Linked DNA regions of Homo sapiens: region 2 is linked to region 1. Evidence: fine-mapped expression QTL. Tissue or cell type: whole blood. Region 1 holds a variant in brackets; the other region holds the start of a gene. All regions are shown on one strand. Distances are between the middles of the regions.

The links. PIP is the estimated chance that this variant, and not a neighbour inherited with it, causes the effect.
Region 2: ZNF350 starts here. The variant in region 1 is fine-mapped to the expression of ZNF350 in whole blood (INTERVAL, PIP above 0.99).

What each region holds. Positions count from the first base shown.
Region 1 is chr19:52,069,161-52,077,266 of GRCh38, reverse strand. ZNF841 (zinc finger protein 841) reads left to right here. Exons shown (of 7, transcript NM_001136499.2): 5 at 183-309; 6 at 1,095-1,223. Among named protein-coding and RNA genes, the nearest start is that of ZNF841, 23 kb to the left of the region's middle. RefSeq lists an enhancer at 5,938-7,137. The variant TG/G (reference allele first, on the strand shown) is at 4,732.
Region 2 is chr19:51,982,907-51,991,012 of GRCh38, reverse strand. ZNF350 (zinc finger protein 350) reads left to right here and starts at 4,173. Exons shown (of 5, transcript NM_021632.4): 1 at 4,173-4,243. RefSeq lists enhancers at 4,007-4,246, 3,833-4,708.

The DNA.
Region 1 (8,106 bases):
AATCTCCTATTGAATTTTATAAAACCCAAAATCAGGGAGACGTAATTATCTCACAGATACTTTTAATGGATATGTCAAAACACACTTCAATCAAATTGATGTGACAGTTCTCTCCTCTTCTCATTTTATGTAAAGATAAGAGCTCACCCACTGCTCATATTGAAATGTGTTTTTCATTTCAGGGATCTTTGACATTCAGGGATGTGGCTGTAGAATTCTCTCAGGAGGAGTGGAAATGCCTGGACCCTGTTCAGAAAGCTTTGTACAGGGACGTGATGTTGGAGAACTACAGGAACCTCGGCTTCCTGGGTGAGGATAGTTTTCCTCCAGAAGTTAGGATCTTCCCTTGTGCATTTTTGTACTTTCCTTATTGTGTTTCTTGTGAGGCCCTACATTATTTGACAGAGACTGAAGCCTTGTTGATTCACAAATAAAAAGCTTCATAATGCTGCATCTGGCCTTTAACTGTCCCATTTCTATGGATATTCTGCTTCCTTCTTTGTACATTAGTGGTGACTCCAGAGCTGAGGTACGTGTAAAACCTTATGGCGGAGTTAATATATCCAATTCCCTGTTCTTCCTGTTTTCTATCCTTGTGCTTTTTTTTTTTTTTTTTGACACAGTCTCAGTCTGTCACCCAGGCTGGAGTGCAGTGGTGTGATCTTGTGATCTTGGCACACTGCAACCTTAGCTTCTTGGGATAAAGCCATCCTCCCACCTTAGCCTTCCAAGTAGCTGGGACTGTGGGTGTGCAACACCATGCCCAGGTAGAGACAGGGTTTCACTCTGTTGCCTAGGCTGATCTTGAACTCCTGTGCTCAAGTCATCTTCCCGTCTTGGCCTCCCAAAGTGCTGAGATTACAGGCTTGAGCCAGTATGCTTGGCCTATCCCTGTGTTTTTGATTCAGTATTTCTTGGGAGAGAGCTAGATATCTTCATCTTACAGTGTTCACTAAGCATTCAGAAGGAGGCAATCAATGGATGAGTTTGTGAAATATTTTGTAGATTCAACTGCAGTGTTTTCTCTTCTACCTAGACATTAGGCTGGGTTCTGGAAAAACCGTGGGACATCTTCTTTCTTTTTTTATAAGCAGGACTCTGTCTTCCTGACCTGAATATTATCTCCATGTTGGAGCAAGGGAAAGAGCCCTGGACTGTGGTGAGCCAAGTGAAAATAGCGAGGAACCCAAACTGTGGGGAATGCATGAAAGGCGTGATCACCGGTAAGAGCTCAGATGGGCACAATGGAAGCGGTACCATGAAATTGTGTGCGTAAGACTCTGCAAGTGGGAGAGTTCTGTGGGGAAACAAATTTGATTTTCTGTGAGCTCCAGAAGTTTTCTTCTTTCCTGCTTATCACTTTGCTTTCCAGACACGTATAACTTTACCTTTCACTCTCCAGGGGTTGCTGCAGCTCAAACAGAGCAAAGTACAAGACTGTTATGATGGACCACAGTGTCATCTGTATTGTGTGAACTCTGATGCTTTGACTCTGTGGCATGGGAAGGGCCTTTTCAAAGAAGTCTCTTTCCCGTGTGGTCTCTCCTCCTGTTCTTGATTCCATCTGATCCTCAGTTCTCTGATCCATATAGATTGGAGCTGAGGGCTCCATAGTCCTGGTGCCTGGAACTTTTCTGGTTCCACCCCATTTCCTATACTTGAAAGTGCTGGTCAGGAGATGAGGAAACATTGGTTGCCCTTCCTTTGAAGCTGGGGTCCTAGAACTGGACTATCTTCAGCCCTCTCTGCCTGTTCAGGTCCCTCAGCCATTTTCTTAGTTCTTCTTTGGACACTCTTCTTGGGTTTGTGACACGGGAATGAGTTGGGTCTCCTGAGATTGTTACATATAAGAATTGTAAAGACAGTTGACACAAAGGTCCTCTCTTTATTCTTAGTCCTACACAGGGAGCGTATCTCTGTCTTCACACTCTTAGTTTGGGATCTGTGGACAGAGCACTGTCTCATTTCAAGATCCCTCACAATCCAATTCCTGTGTTTTTCTCTGTCTTGTTTATGCCTTGGCTCTTTCTGATCTTGCATTCTCTTTTATGTTTGTGTGATTTTTTGCCTCTGAGACTTGCTTTGGATAAATGCATTTCTAGGGTCGGACATTTTATGCTTTTTTCCTGCTGTGATAACCCATCTTGGGGTTATGAATATCTTGTGGACTATTGTATGGAGTGAGTTTACTGGGTAAGAGAAAATTTTTGAAGGAGAGCACTTTGAGTAATGAGTTTTAACATCATCTTGCTACATACAGAGGTAACTATTAAAGCCAGAGTAGAATGATCAGCATTTGTCATGATATTCAGATAGAGACCATCACAAGAGCCTGGTTTCTGAGAAATGTCACAAAAGTATCTTTCAAGGGTACTGTGGCAATGTTGATCTCATATACTAATGGTCCTCTTTTTTGAGCTAGCAGTGAATGGTGTAGGAATTTCTCCCATGCCGGGCACGGTGGCTCAACGCCTGTAATCCCAGCACTTTGGGAGGCTGAGGCGGGTGGATCACCTGAGGTTAGGAGTTCTAGACCAGCCTGGCCAACTTGGTGAAACCCCGTCTCTACTAAAAATACAAAAGTTAGCCGGGCGTGGTGGCAGGCACCTGTAATCCCAGCTACTCGGGGGGCTGAGGCAGGAGAATCTCTCAAATCTGGGAGGCGGAGGTTGTAGTGAGCTGAGATTGCGCCATGCACTCTAGCCTGGGGAACAAGAGCGAGACTTTGTCTCAAAAAAAAAAATTTCTCCCGGGAAGAACATTGTCCAGGTTCACAGCTTCATCTCTGCAGGGCTGTTGCCTGAACCACTGCTCATGCCACACTTTTCTTCCCCAGTATTTTTGTTTATAGTGAGTACGACTTTGATCTTGAGGAAGCTAATGAAGTTGAATGAGGCTTATCTTTTTTAAGTCCACAAAATTCGTTTTAAGCAACCATTGCTTTCATCTGATGCATTTTCATGTATTATAAATGAACTTTGTTTTTATTTATTTAATCAGTTCCATATTTTTGAGGATACTCAGTTTTCTTTGTTTTATGTTTCTATTGTGGTAGTGTTGTGTTGGGGAATGCATATTGTTTTATGTATTTTACAAGATTTCCTTCTTTAGTACAGATGGTATAGCTCAGCAGCAGTTTCCCTAAAACTTACAGAAACTCCATAATGTTGTATTGATAGTATCAGTTATTCCTTTTACTTCTGTTTCACCTGACTTAATTCCTACTATGAAAGTATATATTTGTCGGTTAAATTGATTACAGTTTTTAAGTTGGAAATTTTTAATATCTTGAGCATAATTTTTTAAGTTACTATCTTAATTGTGGAAATACCATTTAATAGATTGATCGTTCTTTGTTATATAACATACATTGCTTTTCTGTAGTAAGTTTCAGTTTCCTAAATATAGCTTGCTGGGTTTTGTTCAAATTGCACTGTTTTTTTCTTTCTTGGAACAAATGCTGTATTATAATAACTATTCTCCTATCTACATTCATGTCCATCATGTTATACTGAATCATTATTTAAAAATCTAACTTTATTTTAAACTTAGCCCATTTCTTACACTTCAGGGACTTCTCTACTATTTATAAAACCTATATATTTTTTTCGTGATGCTCAAGCAATGAAGAATAAATTCTCTTAAAAAACTGGTATTGGGCCAGGAGCAATGGCTCATGCCTGTAATCCCAGCACTTTGGGAGGCTGAGGCAGGCGGATCATTTTGAGGTCTGAGGTCAGGAGTTCGAGACCAGCCTGACCAACATGGTGAATCCCTGTTTCTACTAAAAATACAAAAAAATTAGCCGGGTGTGGTGGCACATGCATGTAATCTCAGCTACTTGGGAGGCTGAGACAAGAGAATTGCTTGAAGCCAGTAGGCAGAGGTTGCATTGAGCTGAGATCACACTGCTGTACTTCAGCCTGGGCGACAGAGCAAGACCCTGTCTCTAAAAAAAAAAAAGAAAAAAAAACAACAACTTGTATTTTGTCCAGAAAAGTTTTTCCTAGATTTTCTTCTAGAATTTTTGTAGCTTGAAGACTTAATGTAAGTCGTTATTCATCTTGAATTAATTTTTGTATATGACAAGAGATAGGAGTCCAGTTTCATTCTTCTATATATGGCTAGCCAGTTTTTCTAGCACCCTTTATTGAATAGAATGTCTTTTCCCAATTTTTTTTTGACTATCAAGGATCAGTTGGTTGTAGGTGTGTGGCTGTATTTCTGGGTTTCCTATTCTGTTCCATTGGATATCTTCTGTTTTAATGTTAGCATTTATATCTGCAGATTTTCTATCTTAGCACTGTTTTTCCTGCATTCACAAGTTTTGGTATGTTCTATTTTCATTTTCCTTTGTTTTGAGATTTTTAAAATTTCCCTTGTGATTTCTAATTTGACATATTGGCTGTTTAAGAGTATGGTCCTTGTTTGTTTGTTTTTGTTTTTTGAGACGGAGTTACGCTCTTGTTGTCCAGGCTGGAGTGCAGTGGTGCAATCTCGGCTCACTGCAACCTCCACTTCCTGGGTTCAAGCGATTCTCCTGCCTCAGCCTCCCGAGTAGCTGGGATTACAGGCATCTGCCACCATGCTTGGCTGAGGGTTTCACTATGTTGGCCAGGCTGGTCTCGAACTCCTGACCTCAGGTGATCCACCTGCCTCAGCCACCCAAATTGCTGGGATTACAGGCGTGAGCCACCACACCGGCCTAAGAGTATGTTGTTTCCACATATT[TG/G]TTGATAATCTAATTTTCTTCTGCTGTTGATCTCTAGTTTTATTTTATTATGATGGGATAAGTTATGCTTTACGATTTTAGTCTTTAAAAAGTTTAAAATTTTTTTTCTTTTCCGATATTTCTTTTGAAAAATGTTTCATGTGCAGTTCTGAAAAATTTGTATTGCACTGTTTTTGGGTGATGTGTTATGCATATATAGGTTAGGTTCAACTTGATATATAGTTTAGGTTCTCTAGTTCCTTGTTTTTCTTCTGTCTGATTGTCCTATTTATAAGTAAAAATAGGCCATTGAAGTCTCTTATTATTACTGTGGAACTACTTCTCCCTTTAGTTACGTTAATTTTGCTTCACATATTGAGGATCTCTATATAGGCACATATTGTTATATCCTCCTAGTGAATTAACCTTTTAATCATTATATAATGCCCTTCTTTGTCTCTTGTACCAGTTTTGACATAAAGTCTATTTTGGCTGACATCAGTTTAGCCACCTCTGATGTCTTTCGGTTAACATTTTGAGGGCATATCTTTTTTCATCCCTTCAGTTCAGCCTATGTGTGTCCTTTGAATTAAAATGAGTATTTTCTGGATAGTGTGCAGCTGAAGCCAGTTTTAAAAATTTATTCAGCCAGTCTCTGTCTTTTGACTGTGGAGTATAAACACTTACATTTAATGTAATTACTGATAGAAAAGGACTTATATTGCCATTGTGTTAAGTGCTTTCTATATCTCTTTTAGATTTTTTTGTTCTGTTTGTCTTACTGCCTTCGTTTTTATATAGTTGATTTTTTTTTCCTGAAATAGTTTTATTTCCATTGTGTGTGTCTTCTATACATTCTCTGTGGTTACCGTTGCAATTACAGAAAACACTTTAGATTTATAACATCCTATTTTAAACTAATAACAGCTTAACTTCAATTACATACAGAAATGACTTTTTACAGATCTGCTTCCATGTTGTGTTTTTGATATCCCAGGATACTTTCATCGTATATACTGTGTCTCCATTAACATATATTTAAACCTTGACAAGAGTCTCCTGCTTTCTTTGTTTTCTCAAATCTTTGCCTGTTGTGCTACGGGTCCTCATTCTGCACCCCGTCTCCTTAACGTTCTTGTACTATCAGTAAAGTTTTGTGGTGTCTTTGTGTGTGTACAAAATGAATTCATCCATCTCCTCTTCGTGGCCATTTTCAGGTTTTTTCTTAAGGATTGAATTGTAAGAACAGTCTTTCACATATCTCTTGATATGTAGGGTTGTTGAGCATATACCTGGAAATAGAACTTATGGGACATTCAGTTTGATAAATTTCATAGCAAATATTATAGAGACATAAATCTGTTTTCTTCCCATATCATCACACCGCCTCCTTTTTAATTGTCTTCCCTTGTTGTCCTGCACCCATAGTATAATTCTCATGTTTAAGTATTAGTCAGTACAATACTACCTCTACATTAGTTTCTCTTTTCTTCCAAAGCCAGGATTTTAGCTGTTTCTTGTGCAATTCTATTCCCACAGCTCTTCAAGCACAAACCCTGCTGCTCCATGCTCATTACTCCTTGATCTCCCCTCTTGCCCTTTGTCCTCCTGGGCCTTTCCTAACATATTACTTTGTCCAGATGGACTACCCAGTTACTGACTAGCATATTAATTTTATACTCCCATTATTGCAGAACTCCCTCACCTCCCATGCTACTCTCACTCTGTAAGGGGTGACCCCTACTCATTCACTTGACCACTGTCTGATAACACTGCGTAAATCAATATGTGCAGGGGATGATGACTCAGATACCGTTCGTTATTCATGACGGATGGCTGAATAATGCTTTTGGCAACACAGCATTGCAGGGAGCCAAAGCCTGTGGGACGTGACCAACTCAGCATTCCACTGGAGGCTATATGATCAAACAGCAAACTGTTTATCATGAATGCAGGATGTGGGCAAACTCATGACTGCTCCTGCTGACAGAAGGTTTGCTGGAGGCAATCACTTCCTGGTGCCAGGGTTATCTACTGCCATATCTAGAGCCTGTTGTTTGAGGAATGCAGTCTTGCAAGCCTACTCTGGACTGCGCAGCTGACCCCTTCTTCCACCATCCTTCTCACTATCTCTCTTGCCTAATAAATACGGACGGCTGTGTAAAGCTCAGGGCCCTTGTCCACTACAGGCAAGGTGCCCCTGACCCCTTCTTCCAAATATACTCTTTTGTCTCTTGTCTTTTATTCCCGCATTCGCCCCCTTTGTTCAGTCCTCCTAGGTCCATGTGGGTTACATAGTGGCACCCTGAACAGCGACAGAATCAGGTGCTCTACACAAAATGGCTCTTGAAGTATTTCTACACTCTTGATATTTGGGTTGACCTGTTATCTGCACTGCTTGTTTGGGAAGTTGTTTTTAAAAAACATGTTTGATCTTGCAAACCCAGGTTCTTGTGTCTTACTTTCTTTGTAAATTGGGTATAGATACATAAATCCTGTGGGCATATTTAGTGTGCTTGTTTGTTAAATAGTGATAATTTACCTAAAGACTTTTTAAACAAGTTAATGCTGTTAGCTAGCTTAGAATATTGCATGTTTTATAGTACAGACTCACAAATTTGTTTAATAACGTGTATCAACATTGTTTCATGTTTATAATGAGATAGCATATTGGCTTTACCTTAGTCAGCATGACTAGCTATATCAGATACCATAGATAGGGTGGTTTAAACAGCAGAAATGGACTTTTCACAGATCTGGGTGGTGCAAAGTTCAACATGTCAGAGCCAGCCACTTTGGTTCTTGGTGTGGACTTTTTTCTGGTGTGCCATGGCTGACTCTGTGTTCTCATGTGGCAGAGAGATTGTCATGCAAAAAGCAGAGGCTTTTTCACGTTTCTGCTAATTGCATTCCTGAAGTTCTATGCACCATCCTGACCTAATTGCCTTCCAAAGACCACACTTCCAAATACTATCACATTGAGGATGGGGCCTTAACATAGGAATTTTGGCAGACATAAGTCTTTATATCAGAGCAGTCTACATTGTATCTGTAAGTTTTCATTTTGCAGTTTGGTCCAAACGGTGTTGTCTTTTATCTCAGTTCATGCATTTTCCAAGTACAATCTCTGTATCATATATATTTTGTGGCCAAGGAACTGGATAATAAAGACAGTGAATAGGACTGGGCACGGTGGCTCATGCCTATAATCCCAGCACTTTGGGAGGCAGAGGTGGGCAGATTGTTTGAGCTTAGGAGTTCCAGACCAGCCTGGGCAACATGGCAAAACCTCATCTCTACCAAAACTACAAAAAAATTAACCGGGCATGATGGCATGCATCTGTGGTCCCAGCTCTCAGGAGGCTGAGGTGGGAGGATCGCTTGAGCCTGTGAGT
Region 2 (8,106 bases), 86 kb after region 1:
AGTAGCTGGGATTACAGGTGCCTGCCACTGCGCCTGGCTAATTTTTGTATTTTTAGTAGTGACGGGGTTTCATCATCTTGGCCAGGCTGGTCTCGAACTCCTGACCTTGTGATCCACCCGCCTCAGCCTCCTGAAGTGCTGGGATTACAGGCGTGAGCCACCACGCAGGACTGGAATGTTTTATTTTACCTATTCTATTGTGTGTGTATTGGTATGAATACAAACATACCAATTGTATGTGGCCTTCCATTTGCACCTCCCTAAAGGCTTTTTTTTTTTTTTTTTTAAGAGACAAGGTCTCACTATGTTGCTCAGGCTGGAGTGCAGTGGCTATTCACAGGCACCATTATAGCACACTACAGTCTCAAACTCCTGGTCTTGAGAAGTTTTCTGTCCCAGCCTCCAGAGTAGCTGGGACTGCAGGCATTTGCCACTGTGCGCTGCTTAGAGCATTGTTTATTAATGCTGGATAAAGATTTTATCCAGCTGGATAAAGGTTTTATATCACTTGCAAATATTTTTCCATAGATGTGGTTCTTTCTTTTTTTCTCTCAGAGAAAAAGATTTTAATTATGATGAAGTCCAACTTTTTTTTTTGAGATGGAATCTTGCTGTCTTGCCCAGGCTGGAGTGCAATGGCATGATCTCGGCTCACTGCAACCTCTGCCTCCCAGGTTCAAGTGATTCTTCTGCCTCAGCCTCCCGAGTAGCTGGGATTACAGGCACCTGCCATCATGTCCCACTAATTTTTGTACTTTTGTAGAGATTGGGGTTTCACCGTGTTGGCCAAACTGGGCTCAAACTCCTGACCTCAGGTGATCTGTCCACCATGGCCTCCCAAAGTGCTGGGATTACAGGTGTGAGCCATTGCACCCAGCCTTTTTTTTTTTAATGGATTGTGGGGTTTTGGCATTACATCTAAGTATTCCTTCCTTACTGTAATTGATAATTCTTTTTCCACTTCCTTTGACAAAATAATGTAGTTTTGCTTCTTTTTTTTTTTTTTTTTTTTTTTTTTTTTGAGACAGAGTCTCACTCTCTCACCCAGGCTGGAGTTCAATGGCATGATCTTGGCTCACTGCAACCTCCGCCTCCTGGGTTTAGGTGATTCTCCTGCCTCAGCCTCCCAAGTAGCTAGGATTACAGGCACGCACCGGCATGCTCAGCTAATTTTTGTATTTTTAGTAGAGACGGGGTTTCACCATGTTGGCCAAGATGGTCTTGATCTCCTGACCTCGTGATCTGGCCACCTCAGCCTCCCAAAGTGCTGGGATTGCAGGCGTGAGACACCACGCCCAGCCAGTTTTGCTTTTTAATATTTAGCAATATCCATTTAAATTCATCTTTGTATATAGGGTAAGGGTTAATTTAAAGTTCAGCCTATGGTTGCCCAGTTGATTCAACAGTATTGAAAACACTGTCCTCTTTCCATTAAATTGATTTTGAACATTTGTAAAAATCAGTTGCCTGTTCTTGTGTCCATTTCTTGACTCTATTCTGTTGATGTGCGTGTCTATCACTCCACTAATAATCTACGGTCACTCCCATCAGAAATGACATAATATGCTCTATGAGGTAAAACAGCTATGTTACCTCATATAAAATGTTCAAAGCCAGAACCTGGACTTTGGGAAATGTCCCATATCCCTCTCCGGAAGCCCGCCTCCCAGTCTCTCGGTGTTCTTAGAGATGGCGAAGGATGGGGTTGCAGCACCAGAATTCCAGAATCGGAAGTAGGTTCTGATACGTGTTCAGCCTTTGGCAGCTGCTACTGTAGCCTTGAAAGCCTGATGCTGCGTGTGAATCCGGATGGGGAGCTTGTGGGGACGACCATGAAGTGGAAACGCATGTGAATGTCCGTGTTCAGGGGTTTTATTTCAGTTTAGTCACCGAGGAATATGGGTGTGAGAAAGAGACCCTTGGGATGTCAAAGGTTAAGGCTTAGTTTTAAGAGTTTAATGACTGAGGGTCCCACGGACAGAGCTTGAGGTCTATATGTTCACTTTTCATGAGTCTCAGTAATAGAAAACTGGGGAAAGTGTGTCTCAGTGAATGCTGTTTTTTGCTCAGATTTGCAATTTAATATGGGGCTCAGATACAGAGAAGCCCGAGCTAGGAAGAGGAGTGGCGTGAATGAAAGGTCTAGGGGGAGGAGTGTCAAAGGAGTGCCTCTGTGGTAAGTTTTAAATTGAATTTGAAGGCAATTTTATTTAGAGGAAGACGGGGCTTGTCTGTGTTTGAGAATGTAATGAGGCTGGAGGCTTTCAGGTGTGCAGTTGAAGGTTAGTGGTTGCTTTGAGACTAACTGGATGCTGGAAACACTTCCTGTCAGTCTTTCAAGTCCAAATCTGTCCTGAAGGTTTCTATTTAAAAACTTTTTCTTCCTAGGTCCACTATTCTCATTGTACCCATAAAAATCAGAGTAATTCAGGGTGACGAAGTGGTGTCTTTACCGAGGAGTCTTGCTCTGTCGCCCAGGCTGGGGTGCAGTGGCGCGATCTCGGCTTACTGCAACCTCCGCCTCCCGGATTCAAGCGATTCTCCTGCCTCAGGCTCCCGAGTAGCTGGGATTACAGGCGCGCGCCACCGCGTCCGGGTAATTTTTGTATTTTTAGTAGAGACTGGTTTCGCTTTGTTGGCCAGGCTGGTCTGGAACTCCTGACCTCAGATGATCCGCCTGCCTCGGCCTCCCAAAGTGCTGGGATTACAGGTGTGAGCCACCGTGCCCCACTTCACTTTCTTAAATGTTGTGTTTAGAAGCACAAACTTAAAAAAAAATCAAGTCCACTTTATTAATTTTATTTTGTTTTGTGGGTCATCCTTTACTCTCCTCTCAGAATTAACTCACGTCCATGAGGATTATCTCCCTTTTCCTTCTCTAAGTTTTATACTTTCTCTTAAACTTAGATCTATGATCTATTTTGAGTTAACTTTTGTGTATGGTTTGAGGGTCCTAACTCATTTTTCTGGATGTGGATATCCAATTATCCCAGTGCCGCTTGTTGAAAAGACTATTCTTATTGAATTGTCTTGGCACTTTTGTCAAAAACTCTTAACAATATTTTTATACTCTCAATTCTGGCTCTGCTCTTCCCATTGGCACCTTTACTAAAAGTGGCCTTTCTAGGAGGCCCAATTCCTTTAGTCTGTCGTGGCCAGGCTCACATCGTAATTCATTCTCAAAATCTCTTTTCTCTCCTCTCCTCTCCTCTTTTCTCTTCTTTTCTCCTCTTTTCTCTTCCTTCTCCTCCTCCTCTTCCTCCTTCTTCTTCTTCTTTTTTGTAAATAATAATCATTTTTTCGAGGCCAGGCGCGGTGGCTCACACCTGTAATCCCAGCACTTTGGGAGGCCGAGACAGGCAGATCACGAGGTCAGGAGGTCGAGATCATCTTGGCCAACATGGTGAAAGCCAGTCTCTACTAAAAATACAAAAATTAGCTGGGCGTGGTGGCGCGTGCCTGTAGTCCCAGCTACTTGGGAGGCTAAGGCAGGAGAATCGCTTGAACCAGGGAGGCAGAGGTTGCAGTGAGCCCAGATCTCGCCACTGCACTCCAGCCTGGCGACAGAGCAAGACTCCGTCTCAAAAAAAATTATAATTTTTTTCTTTCTTCACCACCCGCCCCCCCGAATACCTGCTATTTTTCTGTTCTTAAAAACCGCTTCCTGCAAGCTAATTTTCGCCAGACGCTTTCCCGTGGGTGTCTGCCTACCTGATGTGTTGCCTTTTCCCTTTCTACCTGATCTGTTACCTTTTCCATTTCCAATTCATTCTCTGGGATACCTACACCTGGCTGCACTGTTACTTGTCTTTTTCAAAACCTTTTTTTTTAAATTTAACAAAGTGGATGGAAAAGCGCTAAAGGCAATTTAGCTTGCCCCATATTTGCCTGATAAAGCCTGAGTCTCTGAAAATCTGCCCCCTTTCGCAAGACTTTAAGTGCCAGGAAACGAGGCGATTTCAGTGACTTCTCTTCTTCCCTGGCTCCTGGCTCAAAAACCTGCCACTGCCTTCTGTGCGTCCAATTTTCAAACATGGCTGCCGTCAGGAGCCACGGCTATGGGCGCGGCCATTTTACAGAGTAGGAAATGCCGTAAATGCGCTTGTCCTTGCTCTTTTAAACATTTTAGGTTCTCCTCGGCCGCCGTAGGTGGACCATAAACCCGTGCGAGGACTCCAGAAGTAGGAGCAGTTTACGGAAGTGTAACGTTGAGGCCCTTCTTGTGTATCTGGAGAAAATAGAGGTCAGTGTGTGGTTTTGTCCCTGAAAGTTTTTTGTCCTAGTTCAGGTTTTGTCTCAGTGGAAGGTTTGGGAGATCTGAGGACGTGGTGTACCCTGGACCACATAGTTTTTGGCAGGAAGACTGGGGAGCGCCGGGGTATAGGCATTTGGGAGGTACCTGGTGGGAGTCTGTGATCCCCCTGTCTGTGGTCCGCGTGCCTTTGGTGTGAGTACAGTGACTAAGGGTCTGTAGTGATCAACGGCCGTGTCCTAACTGTCAAGGTATGGATCACTCTGCTTGTAAAGGATGGAGGTGGCGATTAGGATCGATGCGGCGTCTGCTTCGGGTTCAGGATTTAATTTGGAACTCAGTGATGTTGGAGTCTGGGAGGATGTCCATCGCTGTAGAGTGTCTGGTCCGTGGTTCGGATGAGTAAGAGGCATGGGGCCAGTGTCTGTGGTACAAAGGCTTGTGAGGGCTGAAGCTTTCGAGACTTTGGAGCCCTGGGTCCTGGGTTGAGGTTCGAACCTCGGTTACTGGGGCAAAAGGCGACACAGCCCCCAGCATTAGTTCGAAACCATATATCTACTCTTCTGATCCTTGGGGTGGCTATTTACAGATCGGGGGGTCAAGTTCAGTCATACCCTCCGATTATATATTGTCTATGGCTGCAAAGGCAGCGGTTGAGTTGTTGTGACAGAGACCTCGTGGCCGGCAAAATCGAAAATGTTGCCAACCTCTGCATTCACTTCTTTTATTTTTTATTTATTTTTTTTATTTTTTGAGACGGAGTTTCACTTTTGTCTCCCAGACTGGAGTGCAATGGCGCGATCTCGGCTCACTGCAATCTCCGCCTCCCGGGTTCAAGCGATTCTCCTGCCTCAGCCTCCTGAGTAGCTGGGACTACAGGCCCACGCCACCACGCCCGGCTAGTTTTTGTATTTTTAGTAGAGACAGGGTTTTACCACGTTGGGCAGGTTGGTCTCGAACTCCTGACCTCAGGTGATCCGCCCACCTTGGCTTTCCAAAGTGCTGGGATTACAGGCGTGAGCCACCGCGCCCGGCCTTCACTTCTTAATATATAGTGAGTGTTGCTTGCCCGCCTTATATTCACACTTTCTTAACAGAATCTCCATTTCGTGAAGTATTCATCCCTGTGGCAAGGCGACCCAAATCCCAGTTTCTTAGTAAGGCCTTGTTGGTCTTAGCCAATCTTGCTGGTTCCAATTGCCATTGCTAGTGATAGGTTTGACATGGAAATGAGCTTAGGCGTATGGTGCAATTCTAGCCAACTATGTATGTGAAAATCTGCCTGGGAGTTTCTGAGGGAGCATTTTCTTTTTTAAATATGTAATTTCTTGAATCTCTTTTTCCATGTTCGTGATGATATCGCCTGAAAATAACATTAATTTTCTGTCTTACTTTGTAATGCTTATAATTCATTCTTATCTTAATGCATTGGCTCAACTTTCCAGTATAAAGTAGGAAAATAGGGTGTTAGTGGACGTTCTTGTTTTATTACCCACCTGTAAAATTCACCCGTTGTGTTGTCTGGAGTTAACACCTTTCCTGGAGGTAAACTGTTTGGTATGGTTGATCTCTTCCTTTACTTTGTTAATTTTTCTACATTTATATATTTTAAATGTACAATTTAATTATCATGGAGGCAATATATGTATAAGCAGTCATTGCCCAGGTCAAGAAATAGAATATGGTCAGCACACCAGTGGTGTTCTGTGAGTCTTTTTCCATTCTCACACCGAAAAGTATTTTAGGCTTTTCTTTATATAATTAATCATTATTTATCATTGTAGTTAATACAGTTTTGCCTATTTTAAACTCTGTATATCAGTGGAATTGTACATCACTCTTTTTTTGTGTCAGCCTTCTTTTGCTCATTATTGGTGAGGGTCTTTCCTGTTGCATCTGAGTATATTTTCTTTGCTCAATGACAAGGATCAGGCGAATTTACAGTAAATATTTTAGGGCTTGCAGGCTACATATGGTCTCTTGCATATGCTAATTTGCTTTTTGTTTTACAGTCTTTCAAAAATGTAAAAAGCATTCTTGCAGGCTGGACCAAAGGTATAATAGGTTTTCTATCACATTCCATTATGTAAAATATAGCAGTTTTTTCTATTATTAATTACATTTGTATTACCTAAAGCTTGTATTATTAAGAATAATGCATGTGTGAAAATTTGTGTAAATGTCTTTTGGTTCATATGTGCTCTCATATGGGGGAGGCAGAGATGTATATCTAGATGTGCACCTCGGAGGAAAATTGCTGCTTCATAGAGTGTGTATAAACTCCGTCTAAATAGATGTCAAACTGTTTTCTAAAGTGGTTGTACCACTTACAGTTCCCCTAGCAGGATATAGTTTGCTTTATAGGGTGCTTTATGTGGCCTCTTTAAAATATCTGGCCATACCCTAATAACATTGAGAGATTCTCCTATATTAATGTTCTTTAAAGCTTTATTGATATGTTTCTACCATTGAAATTGACAGTTGATTCTAAAATGGTTTTTGTGTATGTTGTGAGGGGGGTTTTAACTTTCTGTCCCCATCCCCAGTACCATTTATTGATTTTTTTTTTTTTTTTTAATTTTTTTAGATAGAGTCTTGCTCTCGTCGCCCAGGCTGGAGTGTAGTGGCGTGCTTGGCTCAACTGCAACCTCTGCCTTCTGGGCTCAAGTGATTCTTGTGCCACGGCCTCCCGAGTAGCTGGAATTACCAGCAGGTGCCACCTTGCCTGGCTAATTTTTGTATTTTTAGTAGAGATGGGGTTTCACCATGATGGCCAGGCTGGTCTCCAACTCTGGCTCAAGTGGTCCACCTGCCTGAAGGGGGCCTGCCCCTCCACACCTGTGGGTATTTTTTGCAAGGTGGAAATGAGAGACTGAGAAAAGAAATCAGACACAGAGAGAAAGTACAGAGGAAGAAAAGTGGGCCCAGGGGACTGGTGTTCAGCATATGGGGGACCCACACCGGCACTGGTCTCTGAGTTTTGTTAGTATTTATTGATTACTATTTTTACCATCTTGGTGAGGGGGGTGTGGCAGGACTATAGGGTAATGGTGGGGAGAGGGTCAGTAGGAAAACATGTGAGTAAAGGACTCTGTGTTATAAATAAGTTTAAGGAAAGGTCCTGTGCCTTGATGTGTACGTAGGCCAGATTTATGTTTGACTTTACACAGACATCTTAGTGTAGTAAAGAGTAGTATTGCCGCCAGTATGTCTCACCTTTAGTTATAAGGTGGTTTTCTCCTATCTTAGTAAATAGAATGTATGATTGGGTTTTATACCGGGACATTCCATTCCCAGGGAGGAGCAGGAGACAGATGGCTTTCTCTTATTTTAACTGTAAAGAGGTCTTCCTCTTTCACTAATCCTCCTCAGCACAGACCCTTTACGAGTGTTGGGCTGGGAGATGGTCAGGTTTTTCCCTTCCCACGAGACCATATCTCAGGCTGTATCAGTGGGAGGAAACCTTGGACAATACCCAGGCTTTCTTGGGCAGAGGTCCCTGCGGCCTTCCGCAGTGCATTGTGTCCCTGGGTACTTGAGACTGGAGAATGGTGATGACTTTTACCAAGCATACTGCCTGCAAACACATTTTAACAAAGCACGTCCTGCACAGCCCTAAATCCATTAAACCTTGAGCCAACACAGCACACGTTTCTGAGCACAGGGTTGGGGCTAGGGTTACAGATTAACAGTATCTCAAGACAGAGGAACTTTTCTTTGTACAGATTAAAATGGAGTTTCTTATGTCTTCCTCTTTCTATATAGACACAGTAACAGTCTGATCTCTCTTTCCCCCACACCTTCCTCAGCTTCCCAAAGTGCTAGGATTACAGGCGTGAGCCACGGCGCCCTTA